2 linked regions of the Homo sapiens genome follow. The protein of the gene in region 1 purifies or fractionates together with the protein of each later gene. This does not show direct contact. Each region holds a gene or a part of one and is shown in the gene's direction. Other genes may lie near its edges. The genes, in order: ZNF625 and GGPS1.

Region 1 (3,826 bases):
CCCAGCTACTCGGGAGGCTGAGGCAGGAGAATGGCGTGAACCCGGGAGGGAGAGCTTGCAGTGAGCTGAGATCACCCCACTGCACTCCAGCCTGGGGGACAGAGCAAGACTCCGTCTCAAAAAAAAAAAAAAAAAAAAGAAATATAAAACTAACATAAGTCTTTTGCCTTTTTGTATTTCTGCCTCAGTTTGTACACCGGTATGGGCAGTGACAGTCTATATGCCTGCCAGAATCACTGCATGTATTTTTTTTTTTTTTTGACACAGAGACTCCCTCTGTCACCCAGGCTGGAGTGCACTGGCACAATCTCAGCTCACTGCGACCTCCCCCTCCCAGGTTCAAGCGATTCTCCTGCCTCAGCCTCCCAAGTAGCTGGAATTACAGACCTGCGCCACCATACCCGGCAATTTTTGTATTTTTAGTAGAGACAGGGTTTTGTTATGTTGGCCAGGCTAGTCTTGAACTCCTGACCTCAGGTGATCCACCCGCCTTGGCTTCCCAAAATGCCGGATTACAGGCATGAACTACTGCACCCAGCCGTGCATGTGTCTTTACTATAAATCTGGAGGGCTTTTCTTTTTTTTTTTTTTTTTGAGATGGAGTCTCACTCTGTCGCCCAGGCTAGAGTGCAGTGGCGCATTCTAGGCTCACTGCAACTTCTCCCCCGAAGTTCAAGTGATTTTTCTGCCTCAGCCTTCCAAGTAGCTGGGATTACAGGCTCCTGCCACCGCACCTGGCTAATTTTTGTATTTTTAGTAGAGACGGGTTTCATCATCTTGGCCAGGTTGGTCTTGAACTCCTGACCTCGTGATCCACCCACCTCGGCCTCCCAAAGTGCTAGGATTACAGGCGTGAGCCACCGCGTCCCGCCTAGGCTTTTGTTTTCTGACCTGGTTGGCCTAGTAGCATCTCCTTTCTCAAGCTGAGTAGAAGGCATGAGAGCAGACATCCTTGTCTGTGTCTCATCTTTGGGAGAAAGCAGTTAGTCCTTCACCATCACGAATGAGGGTAGTTTTGCATTTTTTATATATACCTTATAGTAAGTTAAGGAAGTTACTTTGTATTATTAGTTTATTGAGTTGTTGTTGTTTTTTTTTTTAAGATGGAGTCTCGCTCCGTCATCCAGGCTGGGATGTGCAATGGCATGATCTCGGCCCACTGCAACCTCTGCCTCCTGGGTTCAAGCGATTCTCCTACCTCAGCCTCCTGGGTAGCTGGGATTACAGGCGCATGCTACCACGCCCAGCTAATTTTTTGTATTTTTAGTAGAGACGAGGTTTTACCGTGCTGGCCAGGCTTGTCTCGAGCTCTTGACCTTGTGATCCTCCCGCCTTGGCATCCCAAAGTGGTGGGATTACAGGTGTGAGCCACTGCACCCGGCCGAGTGTTTTTATCATGAAGAAATGTTGAGGTTTGTCATATGCTTTTTCTGCATCTATTATGATGTTCTTGTGTTGTTTGCTGTTGATCCTATACTATTATGGTGTATTGCATGAATGGATTTTCAGAGGTGAGAGCAGCATTGCTTTCCTGAATTGAATGCCACTTCATCACGGGTATGATATTGTTATAGGATTCTCTTTTCCAATATATTGGTGAGGTGTTTTCTTTTGAAATTTAAAGGAGATATTCATGTACAGTATTTTAATAGAATCTAGCATTATCTAGTACAGGATATAGTGTGTGTGTATATATATACACATATACATGTACATATGTTGCATTTATATACAGTATATGGTTTAGTTATGGTAGGTAATTGGTAAATATTACATGTAACGTGTATATGATATATAAGTGCCACATATAAACGGTATTAGCCTATATGGCATTATACTGTTATAGTGTAAATTTATATACTTTTATCCTCCATAGTATAGTGAGTTTCATTTCCTTATTAGCCTGCAGAATACACCAGTCTCATTCTCCTCTGGGAACAAAGGAGAACCTCACCCTCTTGTTGCTACAGAATGTGCCACCCAAAAATATTCATGATCTTAGGTTTAGGAAGAAGAGGCTATAATATGACAAGAGAAACACTAGGAACAGAGAAAAAGTATGTAATTTTGACTACATTAAAATTTAAGCTTTTCTGTTTTGAAAGACACAATGAAGAAATACAGGAGTATGGTCAAGGTTAGTGGTTCACATCTGGAATCCCAGAACTTGGAAGGCTGAGGTAAGGGGATCTCTTGAGCCTAGGAGTTTAAGACCAACCTGGGAAGCATAGTGAGACCATGTCTCTACAAAAAATAAAAAAAACTGGCCAGGCGCGGTGGCTCACATCTATAATCCCAGCACTTTGGGCGGCCGAGGCGGGCGGATCACGAGGTCAGGAGACCGAGACCATCTTGGCTAACACGGTGAAACCCCGTCTCTACTAAAAATACAAAAAATTAGCCGGGCGTGGTGGCGGGGCCTGTAGTCCCAGCTACTCGGGAGGCTGAGGCAGGAGAAAGGCGTTAACCCAGGAGGCAGAGCTTGCAGTGAGCCGAGATCGTGCCACTGCACTCCAGCCTGGGCGACAGAGCGAGACTCCGTCTCAAAAAAAAAAAAAAAAAAAAATTACCCAGGTGTGGTGGCATGCTCCAGTGAGCCCAGGTACTCAGAAGGCTGTGGTGGGAGGATTGCTTGACCCCAGAGGTTGAGTCTGCAGTGAGCTGTGATTGCACTACTGCACTCCAGCCTGGATGACAGAGTGAGACTCTGTCTCAGACAAAAGAAAAAAAAAAAAAAAAGAAATACAAGAGTATAGCTGATCTTAGCAGCTGAGCAGATTCAAGCCTGGTTACTGCATGGTTTATAGAATGCATGAGAATACTGCTTGCTATAGGCTTAAAAAAAAAAAGAAGAAATAAATTGCAAAGAGTATTCACCAAATGGAAGAAAAACTTGAAAATTCTACACCTGGTCCTCACATATATCCATCTCAGTTGGAACCTCAGTCTCCTTTATGACACAAGGTAAGGGCTGAATTGGCAAACAGGACTCCCAGGCATTGTGTCCCATCACTGCAGGAGGCGAGCTCCACCGTAGAACACTGTCTGGGTAATGGTGTATCCACAGTCCCCCATCTCACCCAGTTTATGGAGTGACAACAAGGAGTGGTCATGAGGAGAGAAGTCTGACCCAGAGTTCTGGATATGTGAGTGGGAGATACTCTCAGGACACCCTCCTTCCTTCCCACAGGGAGAGAGCATATTATCCCCTATGCATTCCAGACTTGTGAAGCAGGGTTTCAAGTCTAAGTCCCTGTCCCTTGTAAAAAAAGATTGTACTGAAATCGTGTTAAAAATGTCAAAGAAGGCTTTATTCAGGACAGTTGTGATGTGGGTCATGAGAACTGTAATATGGGAGAGAGATTGACCTCAACCTTGCATGCAGCAACAACAGTATTGAACCTATAGTTCAAGGGTAAATTGAGGGAGAGGATGGAACTTGGTGAGGTATCAAGGGTTACAGAAGAGAAAGCTGATGAGTTATGAATAGGGGTAACAGAACTTCATTGGGTATCACGTTTGGAGGGGCCAGGGTGGGGTTTCTCTGAACTCCCTTAGAAGGATCTTTGCTATAACTGGGTTTTGTAGGACAAGGTCAAAGCCTTGTCAAAGAGGGAGTCCTTGAGACCCCCACAGCTACCTTTTCATGGGGACAACAACAAATCCTTACATTTCTGATTCCCTTCCCACATTCCAAAGCACCCATCTCCCCTCTCTAATCGACATCTTCATCAGTGTGTCCACCATGATGTATTTGAAAGAGCTGTAGTATTTTGTTTTTCATTTTTCCACAGAGCCATGAATGGCTGCATTGGAAACTTTTCTA
Region 2 (3,826 bases), on another chromosome or scaffold:
CTTGTTATAACACAAACACGAATATTTGTCTGCTTGGCATTAAAGGGTAAAGATATTCCATAGCTGGGAATCTTAATCTGAGGTACGTGTAAACATTCAGGGACTATATGATCTCTGAGAATTTGTATGTTGTAAGTCTTTGTGGCAGTGTATACATTTGTGTTGCAACTTATTAACACATACACCGGGCTTTTTTTTTTTTTTTTAGAAGATTCATAGCTTTCATCATATTCTCAAAAGGTTTCTGTGACCCATGAGATGGTTTACAGTATGGGGAAGCATCAAAGCACTTGCACAGTTGATGGTTATATGTGTGTGTTATTATTTCAGCCACCCATTATCATGTGCTTACCAACTGCCTAACAGTGCATACATATGTAGAAGTTTTATTCTTTTCTCCTGTTGCCATATTATACGTCTCATTTCACAGCAGAAAAACAACTGCATGACAGAGACAATGTGGTTCAAACCATTTTACCCTTGTATTCATTGACTGCTACAAAACAGGAACATTAAATACCTGATTGTCACCAAATTGGGTAGTCTCAGCACTTCTACACTCGTAATTGTGCTGGAAAAGTGGAATGCTAGCACTAATAATTAGATTTTGGTTTGGAGGGTTTTTTATTTGTTTATTCTTACTTGTATAAATTTATGGGGTGCAAGTGTAGTTTTATCACATGCATAGATTGCATTGTAGTGAAGTCAGGACTTTTAGGGGGTCCATCACCCATGTAATCACGTTGTACCCATTAAGTAATCTTTCATCATCCACCTCCTTCCCACCTTCTCACCCTTTGGAATCTCCATTGTCTATCATTCCACACTCCATGTCCATGTATACACATTATCTAGCTCCCATTTATAATTGAGAAGATGTACTATTTGTCTTTTATGTCTGACTTGTTACACTTAAGGTAAGGGCTATCCATCCATTTTGCTGCAAATGACATGATTTCATTTTGTTTTAATGGCTGAGTAATCATTCGTTGTATATATACCACATTTTCTTTATTCAGTCATCTGCTGATGGACACTTAGGTTGATTCCATATCTTTACTATTGTGAATAGTGCTGTAATAAACACATAGTGCAAGATTTTGGAAATTTTACTTTTGTGGCACGTTGTTGGTATTTACTCAGGATCTTTGGATTTGCTTGGCTGCATGTATATGAATCAGTGTGTTTATTTACTGAAATATGTGCAAAAGTCTTGTCTTTGGTGGATTAATTTATAATATAAATCCACAAAAGTCAGATTCTGCTCCTAAGTATATTTTACATTTTTAAATTTAATGCCAGCAAGAAGTTACAGTACTAGAATTGCCTTACCCCTGAGAGTATCAATGATCAGATCATAGTATCAGGTGACTGGGCTATAGAAGATGACTTTTATTACTTAACATTATGAAGTTACTAGGGCTGATTTAGAAATCGAGGAACACTGGTGAAACCCCGTCTCTACTAAAATACAAAAATTAGCTGGGCGTGGTGGTGGGCACCTGTAGTCCCAGCTACTCAGAAGGCTGAGTCAGGAGAATTGCTTGAGCCCAGGAGGCAGAGGTTGCAGTGAGCCGAGATCGTGCCACTGCACTCCAGCCTGGGCGACAGAGTGAGACTCCGTCTCAAAAAAAAAAAAAAAAAAAAAAAAGGAACACATCCTCACTGTTACAATAAATAACAGTAGCCCACACCCCCTTAGTTGTGATGTGGTGTGATACCATGTAAGCAACCTATTTCCAGTTCCCCTAACATTCTCAAGCAGCTGTATCAGAATCATACAAGATGCATATTTAAATTGAAGATTTCTAAGTCTCTGGCCCAGACTTAGAAAAAAAGGATCAGGCCGGGCACAGTAGCTAACACCTGCAATTCCAACACTTTGGGAGGCTGAGGCGGGTGGATCGCCTGAGGTCAGGAGTTTTGAGACCAGCCTGGCCAACATAGTGAAACCCCATCTCTACTAAAAATTCAAAAAATTAGCTGGGCGTGGTGGCAAGAACCTGTAATCCCTGCTATTCGGGAGGCTGAGGCAGGGGAATCACTTGAACCCGGGAGGTGGAGGTTGCAGTGAGCCAAGATTGCGCCACTGCACTCCAGCCTGGGCAACGAGCAAAACTCCGTCTCAAAAAAAAAAAACAAAAGGACCTTTGAGCAATCAGAATAACACAAAGTACATGAACTGAACTTCATTTTCTTCATTCAAAAGAAAGTGGCCCTCACTCAAGCAAATATATTCTTGTGCTTTATCTTCTGGCATACTGAGATAACTTTCTAAAGTGGTTTCCAATTCCAAAATCCAATGATGTGCAACTCATTGAACAGCCCTAACCACAAACTGCCATTAGATGCCATATTACATTTAGCCTTTTTGTTGTAGAAAAGTTGGTTAGAAGTGGGCTCAGGATTCTAAAGACTAAATCATAGTCCCAAGAAGCAAAAGAAAGAGGATAAAAGTAATAAACTTCCCAAAATGTGCCAAAGATGCTAGAGCAGTTAGATTCCTAATATGAGGACAAGTAATAATAGAAACAGATACAAAGAAATAAAGTAGAGATTCAACAGTACAGGGAGACCCTAGGAAGACCATGAGTGTTATTCTAGGAAATACTGAAATAAGACAGATTTCAGTATAAAGGGGAATATGTTTAATAAATATATGCATTTGAGTTAATGCGTATTTTAAATCAGAAATCTCTGAAATGGATTGATTGTAGAGAAACTACTAGGGGGACGAGGAGAATCCCTTTAAATTTTAAATACATAAAACATACTCATCTTAGTGCTCATTTAAAAAAGGATATGTTTACTAATTAGTGTAATCAGTTAAATACAGAGGTATCTTTCCAATTCTTTGGATGTGTTTTGACATTTGCCGTCAACAAATTAAGCCTTTTGTGGTTGATTAAAATAGGAAAAGCTTAATATAAGTTATGTGACTAAGAAAACAACTTAAAAACCAAGACAACACTTTGACCAATATAATCACTTGAATGAAGAATTTTCTAATTGAGATATAATTTACATACCACCCATTTAAAGTGTACATTTCAGCAGTTTTTAGTGTATTCACAGGGCTGTGCAACCATCACAATTTAATTTTATAACATTTTGATCCCTGCGAAAAGAAACCCTGTACTCATTAGCAATTAGTCCCTGTTCCTAACCACTAATCTACTTTCTTTCTCTGTAGATTGGCTTATTCTGAACATTTCGTATAAATGGAATCATACAATATGTAGTCTCTTGAGATTGGCTTCTTTCACTTAACATGTTTTCAAGGCTTCATAGCTGTAGAATCTTGCTTTGTTTTTTTGAGACTGGAGTCACTCTTTCGCCCAGGCTGGAGTGCAGTGGTGTGATCTCAGCTCACTGCAACCTCTGCCTCCCGGGTTCAAGCAGTTCTCCTGCCTCAGCCTCCCAAGTAGCCAGAACTACAGGCACACACCACCATGCTCGGCTAATCTTTGTAGTTTTAGTAGAGATGGTGTGAAGGCTGGTCTCGAACTCCTGACCTCATGATCTACCCACCTCAGCTAATTTTTCATATTTTTAGTAGAGACAAGGTTTTGCCATGTTGCCCAGGCTGGTCTCGAACTCCTGGGCTTAAGCTATCCGCCCGCCTCAGCCTCCCAAAGTGCTGGGATTACAGGCGTGAACTACCGTGCCCAGCAACAGAATCTTCTTTTTAAACCAGACTAGGTGTCTTTTCACAAACACCCTGCAATACAAATTCCTTTGCAGTTTGACACTGAAAGATGATTAGTTTCATGTGATCTTTATGTTTCTCCTTTTTGACAGATTAGCTTTGAAGTTTAAATCCAAT

Evidence for each region.
Region 2: the proteins of ZNF625 (region 1) and GGPS1 purify together in Homo sapiens (affinity purification with mass spectrometry; one large-scale study listed by BioGRID and IntAct). This does not show direct contact.

What each region holds. Positions count from the first base shown.
Region 1 is NC_000019.10:12,150,118-12,153,943, reverse strand, and holds part of ZNF625 (zinc finger protein 625), read left to right. Parts: intron 1-3,826. UniProt on the Homo sapiens protein: May be involved in transcriptional regulation.
Region 2 is NC_000001.11:235,331,441-235,335,266, forward strand, and holds part of GGPS1 (geranylgeranyl pyrophosphate synthase), read left to right. Parts: intron 1-3,801; 5' UTR 3,802-3,824; coding exon 3,825-3,826. UniProt on the Homo sapiens protein: Catalyzes the trans-addition of the three molecules of IPP onto DMAPP to form geranylgeranyl pyrophosphate, an important precursor of carotenoids and geranylated proteins.